Regions from separate parts of the Homo sapiens genome. Here region 2 is linked to region 1. The links come from fine-mapping of genetic effects on gene expression. Tissue or cell type: whole blood. Region 1 holds a variant in brackets; the other region holds the start of a gene. All regions are shown on one strand. Distances are from middle to middle.

Region 1 (5,000 bases):
TCCTAAAATTCATACGGAATCTCAAGAGACCCCAAATAGCCAAAACAATCTTAAAGATGATTAATATTTCCTCATGTCAAGTTACTAACAAAGTTACAGTAATCAAAACTGTGGTACTGGCATAAAAACATAAAGAACAATGGAACAGAATAGACAGCCCAGAAATAAACCCTCACACATATGGCCAAATGATTTTCAACCAGGGAGCCCAGTCCAGTTAATGGGGAAAGGAATCTTTTCAACAAATGGTGCTGGAAAAAACTGGATTATCGACAGGCAAAGGAAAAAAGTTGGACCCTTACCTTACTTAAATACAAAATTGATTCCAAATGGATCAAAGACCTAAATCTAGGCACTAAAATGATTTTTTAATAATAGCTATCCTGCTTGACGTGGTGGCTCATGCCTGTAATCCCAGCACTGTGGGAGCCTGAGGCAAGCAGATGGCTTGAGCCTGGGAGTTCATGACCAGGCTGGGCAACATAGCGAGACCCCGTCTCTACAAAAAATACAAAAATTAGCCAGGTGTGGTGGCATGCACCTGTAGCCTTGGCTACTTGGGAGGATGAATTGGGAGGATCGCTTGAGCCTGGGAGGTCAAGGCTGCAGTGAGCTGTAACTGCAGCACTGCACTCCAGCCTGGGTGACAGAGTAAGAAAAAAAAAATAATGGCCATGCTAATGCATGTGGGGTAGTATCTCTTTGTGACTCATAAATAAAAATGAACTGTAATGCACCATTTTCTCATTGCCCTTGCCAAAACTGGTTATCTATCTTCACAAATATGGCTCACATGGATGTTTTATTTGGCTTTTTAAAAAATTACAGTAAAGTTGAACATATTTTCCAAAGTTTCCAGTTATTTATTCATTAAATATTTATTGAGTACCTATTATGTGCCAACCACTGAACCAGATATTAGGTGTACAGTAGAAATGAAACAGAACAGATTCCTCCATCACGGAACCAATGGTCTAATGAAGTGGTTTCCATATGTAAGAGCGCAGAAGATTCATCATCCCCAGAAAATTTTGACTGAGAACATCTAGAAAGAAGCCTAGGAATCATTGTTTTGTGTGTGTGTGTGTGTGTGTCTTTTTTTTAAGTGTTTGAAGAGTCACTTCCAGCAATTCTTATATGAATGTTTAAGGATCAGAATAACTGTTAAAGCAGAATCTTTATTGGACATTTATATTTCTCCTTTTGTCAGTTTCCTGTTGTTTCCTTTTCCAATAGACCACTGGCATTAGTATTTGTTGTATAGGCTAAAAATATCTGTACCCTTTTTTTAACTTCAATTTTGATTTCATGATTTTTTAATATATCTGAGTTTTCAATCTGTAGAGGTAAATATGTCGAGTTTTTCCTTTATGCTCATATCTGTTTTATTATGCTAAGAAAGGCTTTTCCCACCATAATCTTAAAGAAAAAATCCTAGAAGCTAGTTGACGTTTTATGGTTTCCGCTGAAGCAGTTTATCTGTAATAAACTTTCTGTGTATTGTATGATACAATGATCTAACCTTTTTCTAAATGGATACTAAATAACCAATTTTATAATTTATTGAATCCTCAATTTTTTCCAACTGATTATTCACATACACAAGTCTATTTTTGAACTACATAGTCTGTTCCATAGAAATAATTTTCTCTTCCTATAAAACTACTATACTGTTTTAAATAATGAGGATTTACAGTGTATTCTGATACTGGGAAAGGGAGTTTTTTTCATTTTTTCTTTTTGTTCAAGCTCTTCCTGACTACCCATCTGAAAAATAAAGTTTCAGATGAACTTTAGAATAAACTGTTAAGATAAAAAAAATATTCTTGGCATTTTGATAAGAACTGTATTCAATTTCTAAGTTATTTTGGGGAGAATGAAATCTTTTTAATAATGGATCTTTCATTCAATGAATATTCTATGCTGCTCTAAATAGTCTTAGAAAATACAAAACTCAGCTCTTCTTTTATGGCATTCAATAAAGTTTCCTAACTTACTTCATTGGGTTTACTTCTAAGTACTTTACAATTTTGTTCCTATGGTAAATGAGTTGTTTTCTGTACTTCATTTTGCAGTAGTAATTGCTGGAGCAAACAGGAAAAAATTTCTCAGTTCTCTAGAATTTTTGATTGTTTATTTTTGGTAAACAACTGTTTCATTTCTTCTTTTTATGTTATACCACTTTTTTTTGGTCTTGCAGTACTCAAAACCTCCCAAACAACGTTAAACAGCAGTGATCATGAGGCATTACTCTCTTATTCCTAACATTAATGGGATCCTAGAAATGTGTAGTAATTGTGAGGTTTACTGCTGGTTTCTAGTATTCTTTTTCAAATAAGAAATTTCTATTTTTAGTTTACTAAGAGTTTGTATAAAGAATGATGTTGAGTACTATGAAAGCTTCTTCAACATTTACTAAGGTCCAGTATATATCTAACAGTACTTCAGTTGAGTCTCACAGATTTTCTGTGAAGGAGGACTGCTTAGGTTACACTCCTAACTAATGTTTCTACTTGTATGACCTCAAGAAATTTATTTAATCTCCCTGTGCCTCAGTTTCCCTATCTGTAAAATGTAAAATGGGAAAAAGTAACAATACCTATTTCATAGGATTTGGTGTAATAATGGCCCAATATACGTAAATAGCTTCATGCGGTGCAAGACATATTAATTGCTCAA[T/C]GTTAGCTATTATTTCTTTATTCTGACAAATGACCGTATTATCTGAAATTCATTATAAATTTATATTCTCCTTTACCATCTTTTTTGCTGTTGTTGGTTTATGTCTATTTTATGTTTTATTTCATTGACTTTACCCAAAGTTCCTAATTTTACAGGAAACAGAATATTAACTATGAGGTTGTTATTGGTATGATACAAAGATTATGTCCTCTGGTTCCTTTTCAAAGATTCCTTTTTTTTCAGAAATATAGGTTGAATTTTATAAAATTCTTTTGATTTTCACATAACTGGATTTCTAGCATAAAACTTATTTGTAGCAGATAATACTATATATTTTTCATATATTATTCTTTTTAATTTGCGAACTTTTCATTTAAGGTATTTGTAGATAAGCTTACAAGTGAGTCGAAAGTTTTTGTTGTTATTGCTAGGTTTCACTACAAGTGTTACAATGGTTTCATAACTTACCCAGAAAAGTTATGTGTCAGGGCCTGTCATAATTTTCTGTTTTAGAAACAAATACGCTCTTATATGAGCACAAATAATGTATGATGCCTCATCACTGAGAGCTGTTCATCCACGTTTAAAGGTATCATGTCTTATAAGGTCAGATACCTCATAAATGGTTTCTGATGATAATGAAAGTGAGATCAGGACTCATGCACATAAGATTAAAAAAAAAATCTATGGCAAAGGGAAAAAAATAAACAGTCTTACCTCACTAAGTTCATGCTGCCTTTGCATCTTCTTTTCGAAAGTGGACTTCATCTGTGTAAGTAATTCATACTAAAAGAGAAAATGAAAAGGTTGTTTTATTCTATTTTTAAATTATGTAAATTTCTTCAAAATTATCACTAACTCACCTTATCTAAAACAGTTTGTCTTTTGGCTTCCAAGCTGGGCTCCAAAAGGAGATTTTTTCCTGTAAGATAAATCTCTAGTTTACTTCTAGGTAAAGATGAGATTTTTTTCAGGAAATGTGCGCTCAGGAGAGGGAAAACATACTTGCTAGTTCCTCAATACTTTTTACTAAGTCATCTTTGTCGGTAATAATTTGTTTTAGTTGAGGCAAAGTCAGAAACTGTTCTAGTAATACCTCCTCTTGTTCATTCATATCTGTGAGTTGTGACACACTAGAAACACAAAAGAAAAAATGTCAATAAATATCAGACATCGAGTTTTTCTCCATGACAACTATTTACAATTTTTCAGCTTTAGTTAACTGATAGGGTTCTAAATAATTTTTACATATACACCTAAGGCTGCCAGTTTTAACCTTAAAATCAAATAAAACATCAACCACAATGGAACATAGAGCAGTCTGTAATATATTCTTGACAGAATCTGTAAAAGTAAATTTTGGTCCAATGGATATATCGATATATCTACTTTCTTTAAAAATCACAACCGTGGGGAAGTGTTCACAGTTATACAGTGACCTGAAATTAAAAATAAAGTCAACTTAACTCAGGTAAAGAACAATGTATGAAACTAAGGAGCTTATTCAGCTTAGGTTTCTTAAAATAGGACAGCAGTAATATAGTTAAGTATTTTTTTCTTGTTCTTAATTCTGTTTAACTTAATTGCTTGAGAATATCACTTATTTCTTAAATTTCCCTGATAGGAACCAGACTTACTGATATGTAAAATTTAAGCTATTTATTTCTTCCAAGCATAATGTTGAACACACTAGTACTATAGTAAATTCAGACAAGTACAAGTTCACAGACAAGGTAGCATGAGAAGAATTTCTTCCTAGTCATTTCATTGTATGTATTGATAAGAGGGAAACAGAGCTGAAAAGAGGCCAGAGTAGTTACTGTAACATTTTGGCTTTTTCCTCTAGTCAGCTTTAGACCAGGTCAGTGCATGATTCCAAGGATGTGTTGGCCAAAATGTAGCCAGTAAAATCTCCCAAGACTCTACAAGATAAACAGTCTCTGCTAGTGTATAATGTCAGTTACTGTAGGACCAGTAAGACACGGCACATAAGCAGTCACAACAACTCCGTTTTAACCTCTGTGACTATTTAGCTTACAGATGTGTGGCTGTCACAGTAAGAGTTATAGATATGTTTATGTGTGTTTATGTATATGTGTGTACAGATATTCATAAAATATTTAAAGAAAAGAAATAATGGAGGGCTAAACCAAAAACAAAAATGGGTATCTGTAGGGTGAAAGAACTAGGTGGAGCAGATATGGATGGAAGCAAAACTTTTCTGAACGTATCTTAGTTTTGACTATGGAGCCATATAAAAACGTTGGATAATTTAAAAATAAAGAAGAAAAGAAAAAGCAGTCTTTAAAATTCAGGGAAAA
Region 2 (6,298 bases), 35 kb after region 1:
CATTCTTTGAAAACTGGAAGCATATGACCTACTTAAGTGTCTCCGGAATTATTCGAGTATAATTTGTAAATGCGAAACATCTCAATAAAACTTCAAGTGTTTTTATAAAAGAACTTAAAACAATAAAATACTTAGTTATTTGTTCATAACACTACAAAATAAATTACATTATCTAATGTAATCATGTCCAATCATACGTTCATAATTTCTGGTTCAAAAAATAATACATAAAATGAATCCTTTCTGTATCCAACTCCGCGTATTTACTGATCCTCTTAAGCCAATTCCAGAACTCTTTACATTAACAATTGCTGCTATAGAATCTCACTTTATTTGGGAGGCCAAAATTATAAATTTCACATCAATTACTTCCCTTACTTACCAGCCTTAGCAGCAAGAGACTTTGTAGTATTTAAAAAATTAAACTCCAACCTCGAAGAAAAAAATTAGTCAGCATTGAAAATATTTAACATAATACTACATACTAAGGTTTAAAAGCAATTAATTCCAAAAGTGTGGTTCTAAAAAAGTGTTTCTGCAATAGCAGGACTGGTTTGGTATATAGTCTACCAAGGTAACAACTTCTAAGGGAACAAACATGTTAAAAACGAGTCCCCTTATTTTATAAGCATACCTTGTGAGAGTAGCTCTTAAAGGTCAGTACAGAACATGATTTGGAGTAAGAGTGACTTGTAAGAACTTTGCGAACTTAATTTTCCAGAATGAAAGCCACCAATAACAGCCTGCCATTCTTTTCTGTTAAACAGCATAAAATTTCACCTTTTGAAAGTTCTGAACAAACAGAACAATTGAGACAACGAACCAAGAAACACCTAAAGTTCAGTCAGCATCAGGCCTTATTTTAGCCAAACTGATTTTGCAGTAAATTTTTCTATTAACTAGACTATTTAATTAAAAATTATTCCATTTTAAATAAGAATTATTCGATATTATCTGAGGATACATATTTTTTAACTGTATGAAAATAATATTTTTAAAAGGGCTAGGAGCCCGGCGAGGTGGCTTATTCCTGTAATCCCAGCACTTTGGGAGGCCGAAGCGGGTGGATAATCTAAGGTCAGGAGTTCGAGACCAGCCTGACCAATGTGGTGAAACCCCGTCTCTACTAAAAATACAAAATATTAGCCGCGCATGGTGGCGCGCACCTGTAATCCCAGCTACTCGGAGGGGTGTGGGGAGCTGAGGGAGGATGATTGCTTGAATCCGGGAGACGGAGGTTGCAGTGAACCGAGATCGCGCCACTGCGCTCCAGCCTGGGCAACAGGAGAGCCGTACCCCCGGCAAAAAAAAAAAAAAAAAAAGGGGTTAGGGACTTAACAATGTTGTCATCTTTATTTAAAATAGTGTGAAACTGTTAAGTAAATATACTTGCAAAATGCATAAAATATAAAGAAGCAGTTCTAATTTTTGAAAACCATTAGAGACCATAGACATTTGCAATGTAAAAGGCTGCAGCAAACCAATTTACAGTAAAAGTTGAAATAATATGAATTGTAAAAATATTTCTAAACTGACCATGATAAAATGAAAAACTCACAGGAAGACAACAGAACAATCAAGATGAACATAAAGTAATTCTTGAGCGTGGGGACAAGACTATGAAAGAAGTGAGAAATGTACATGCACTGGTCGCTGTGAGATGGGGAGAGACTGCTCCAACAGGGTAAATCTTAGAGACTCAAGAAGACTGACTACGTGATAAGTGACTCTCAGACGAGAAGCATTCACTGATGAAAACTCTGGCTTCCCTTTCCTTTGATGTTGCAACAGTTCTATTTTCCATTCTTTGTGAAACCTGGAGATTACTCTTCACAATTGTATTTTAACAATTCTGCTGACGCGGCAATCAGGTGGGCAAAGGGAAAGATCAGTGGCGAAGCCTGGGCAGCAAGGGATACTGGAAATAGACTATGAGAGAGATTGAGAGATTACAGTCAGCAGCTATGTGTCAGGAGGGATGAGGAAATCCGAGTTAGAAGCGCTGAGCAGTGGTGCGGCAGGAGGCAGGGAGGGTCCGGAGGAAAACAGTAAAAGGGGGCAGGAGTGGCAGAGCAAGCGTGTGACCCACAACCAAGGGAGGTAAACCACATGAGGAGCTGGTGGGGAGCAGACTGAGGCGCTGTGAGGGTGGTTAGGACAAGCCCGCCCTCCCACCCTACTTTTTCCTCCGGTGGAGAGGCAGCGACCAGTCACCTGGAGTGTGAGTTCCGGAGGGACTCGATCAGGCGCTGCTTCTGCTGCTGGAGGCTGGTGAGGCCACCGGGGGACCCAGCCGCGGAGGAGGAGGCGCTCTTGGTCAGGGGAAAAAGCCAGCTCATCCTCCTCGGGTCCACGGGCCGGAGGCCCTGGAAGGCTCTGGCCTGCTTCTCCCAGTGGCTCGGCCCGGCGGTTCTCCAGCGACAGAGGAGCGGGGTGGGACGTCCGTGGCCCAAGCGCTGGGGACCGCGTCTTCTCTAAGCCTGTCCTGCCTGCGCTCCCCGAGTTCTGGGGGACATGCTACGAACGGCGGGCGGCTGGAGAGGGAAACTTGCGGCCCGGAACAGGAGGTCCCACCTTCACGGCCCAGACGCCCAAACCGGCCAGCCAGGGAGCCTGGCCGCCCAGCGCTCCACCACCCGCGCCGCCGTCACTTGCGTGCCCCGCCCCCGGGGGCGCTCTCCGCCCCCTCTGCGTGTCGCGTCATCATCTAGCGCCCCCGTCAGGACGTGCGAAAAGCGACGGCGCAGCACGGTGCGGCGCAGCTCCTGCTCGCCTTTCCCTTCGCTGGGCGAGAGGTGTCTATGGGGCACCCGCTGCCGCCGCCGCTACCGCCACCGCCACCGCCACCGCCGCCGAGTGCTGTCTCTATGGCGAGGAGGAGGAGGAGGAGCGCGAGCTCAGCGACACAAGTAGATCTTGCATCCGCTGCAGCCTTACGGGGGGAGGGGCGGGTTAGGGAAGTAGAAAGGGGGCGGGGACGATGAACCTGAGAGGGTGCGCGATGGCGCCAGCTGGAGTGCGGCTGGCGGAGGAAGGAGCCTGGCGGCGGGTTGGGGGCTGGGTAACTGGGGCTGGGGGTTTGTCAAGGGGTTGGCGCGTAGTGATGACGCAAAGGCTTTGTACCTGGGGCTTCGCAGTGGGACGGAAATTGGGAGTGGAGGGCGGTGGCCTAGATCCTCACCTCTTCGTATTGTTTCACGCGGCAGTGCTTGGGAGTCAGTGTAGCTCCAGTCAGTGTTATCAGCACCTTCGCACTGGCGCTTTGCCAGGGAAGAGAGTTATCTATGGCTTGAATACCTCGGTGCCGTCCTCTCGTTTCTCTGGGAAACTGCAGTACGGAGATGCTTTCTCCAGTAATGAGAAGGCCTTTGGTGTCTCTTCGGGGCTTCTGGGACTGCAGTAGAGAGAGAGGTGGAGGAAAACAATGTTAGACTACAGGGTCTTTCCAAGTCTTTGTGTTTTTGTGCTTATGTGTGTGTGTGTGCCTATCGGGGTGGGAGAGTTATAAAGGAGGGGTGTCCTGGATCTCCTTTAGTTTCTCTACTTGGAGAATTGGAAGTTACATTTGTGACTCTTCAGAGTTTAGAAGACAGTCATAAGACCCTCTTTTTACTCTTGTTTTTTTTTTTTCCAATTTGTATGAAAAATGCAGAAGGATTTGAAATTTCCCTGCCCAAGAATCAACAGGAACTCTGTTTATAGACCAGAAATGTGACATCTATCTTTGGTAACCATGCAATATGCTCTAAGTTTTAGACGTTCTATTGTGTTCTTTTTCCGTTCTGCAACTGCGAACATTCAGATAATTTTCATGGCCGTTACTTTTTTCTCAGAGCATTTACAAACATTTTTGACCCCTCTAGTCTAGTTAGAATAAACGCCGGTAAAGTAGATCTTGTTATCAAGTCGGATTTTGGTTGTTTTATTAATGAGGAATAAAAATAAACACCATCTTTGCCATGGTAACATCTGATCTTGTCACATGTAAATAAGTAATTTTTCATTTTTTGTCTGGAAATGGATGGCTTTATAAAGTTTTATGCAGAGTAGTTGAACTCAGATAAATAATTAGTGGAAAGTTATAAAATATGATTAGTATGTATGTGTAAAAAAGCTATTTTAAAATAACTGAAATTAGGACCAGGAAATCTGTACTGTAGTCCTTTTTTTCCTATAGACTAGCTGTGTGACCTTAAGTTACTTTCTAAACTTTGATTTTTTTTTTTTATGAGTCAAGAACTTTGAATAAATAACTTCTTAGGTTCCTGCTGGATCAATTATTCTGTGATTCAGATTTGATATATCTGGTCTTCATATTGTTTTTTTATTTTGACAGGTACATAAATAAAGGATAAAATATTTTATGAAACAAATCTTCAATCAAGTATAACATTTTGATGCTTGGCATCTAGACTCCCTTGTGCCCTCACTATGCCAGCGGCAACTGTAGATCATAGCCAAAGAATTTGTGAAGTTTGGGCTTGCAACTTGGATGAAGAGATGAAGAAAATTCGTCAAGTTATCCGAAAATATAATTACGTTGCTATGGTATGCCCACAAGCAGATCTTTAAAACGCTTCATATAAAGGAGGAAAAGGAAATTTTAAAGTCTTGAATTCAACCCTTTTGGTTGATATTTTTAGGGATTAATTTCACCATGAAAAGTAAAATTTGTCACTGCCCTCCAGCCAAAATCCATCAGGAATACACCTGTGATTTGACAGGTTGGGTTTATCCCTCATTGCAGTGAGGGAAAACGCACTGGAATTCATGGGAACCATGGGCCGTTTGAATAAGAGTTAGGAAGGATTTGGGCTCGTGTCAGGTGGTCTTAGGGGAAGGTAAGGGAAGCAGAGCTTTACTGTGGATTGGATGTGTTCGGGAAGCTGGGGTAATTCTGTGATTGGGTATCTTACTAAGTCTTAAATGAGAGACTAGAATGAGGTTAAAGCTGCAGAGAAGGAACAGTCATTCATTTAGCCAGGATGGAGATACTTGGTCATTTTGTGGTTTGACATTTTTATTTTTTTGTCCTTGTTCAGACATGATTACAGAGTGGCCTTATTTGAGGTTGAACTTTTGTGAAATTGTGTTCAACAGGAGAACATTAGGGCGTGGCTATGAGTGCCAGGTCTGCTCCTAGCAACACCAAAGCCTAGCTGGTAGTACCACATGAGCTCCCAGAAGCTAGGGTGCTCTTTCTCAAACAAAAAAATCAGATGTGCCAGTGAAACGTTGTTGGTCTGCAATTTGTTTTCATAATTAACACTGGAGTTCTGTGAATATACTGTGTTACTAAGCAACTCTGCTTTTGCACGTGCTGTTTGGTCTGCCTAGATTGTCTATCCAGTTAATGATTTTTCTTCTTTACCATTATACTGTCTATATCTGTTAGCTACCCTACTGTTTTCTACATCCACTGGATTATTATTAGCTCCATAAACCAAGTGTTTTAATCCTTTCTCTCCCAACACCTAGCATAACACATATAGTATTCAATAAAGTGGCTGTTGAATTGCACTGAATTTAGAGAAATATTGATTTCTTTACTATTTCATAGTGACTTGATAGGTAGTTTTTATTCTTAGCTAGCCCTAGTTTGAATTCTAATACTAAACCGATGTATCTTTGTCTCAGTATTTTTAATAAAAATAAACAAATGCATTACTTTGGGGAGGAGCAAGTTGATTGGTTAAAATATGACTGTTTCTTTGTAGATGACATACTATTTGATAAAGGTGTACTTACCCATGATTAGAACTAAAATTGTTTTCTTAACCAATGGAAATTCATAGTGATCATTGATTTCTCAGATGATAAAGAGTGGCAACATAGAGAAGTGATAACATCCTACAAGAGTGAGTAGGTGGCATGCAATTCTTGACAGCATGCTTTCTGTGGACTATAGAGAGAATATTGTTTAAGCCAGAGAAATTAGGAAGCTAATGATGTTTTTCTTAGGGTTTTGGTGTTGAGAAAAACCTTGTGTCAGAGAAGCAATTGGAAAGTACAGGGCGTTTTCCCCTCTTTTGAACCAGTTCTTCAAGAAACTTGGTTTTAGCATTGGAATACTGTGAGCATCATTTCATGTATCCTTTGGGAGACAGGAATTTATGATTTTCCCCCCTTTCTTGGTTATAGAGTAAGTATTTGGTTAAATTTATCACATGTATCTCGTATAGTAACTTTTTGGATATATTTAAGGAAAGGTTATTAAGTTTATAGAGTTTTATGGTTCTAAAAAGTGATGTTCTTTCTAGTTAAAATATACTTTGTAATTGAATATAAATGTGTAGAA

What was found. PIP is the estimated chance that this variant, and not a neighbour inherited with it, causes the effect.
Region 2: CNOT7 starts here. The variant in region 1 is fine-mapped to the expression of CNOT7 in whole blood (INTERVAL, PIP 0.98).

Annotation. Positions count from the first base shown.
Region 1 is chr8:17,278,840-17,283,839 of GRCh38, reverse strand. It overlaps VPS37A (VPS37A subunit of ESCRT-I), which reads right to left. Exons shown (of 12, transcript NM_152415.3): 7 at 3,685-3,812; 8 at 3,543-3,601; 9 at 3,397-3,465. Among named protein-coding and RNA genes, the nearest start is that of VPS37A, 34 kb to the right of the region's middle. The variant T/C (reference allele first, on the strand shown) is at 2,680.
Region 2 is chr8:17,243,286-17,249,583 of GRCh38, reverse strand. CNOT7 (CCR4-NOT transcription complex subunit 7) reads left to right here and starts at 2,727. Exons shown (of 7, transcript NM_013354.7): 1 at 2,727-2,909; 2 at 4,337-4,548. The coding sequence starts at 4,432. VPS37A (VPS37A subunit of ESCRT-I) reads right to left here and starts at 2,626. Exons shown (of 12, transcript NM_152415.3): 1 at 2,215-2,626. The coding sequence starts at 2,339. RefSeq lists an enhancer at 2,130-2,978.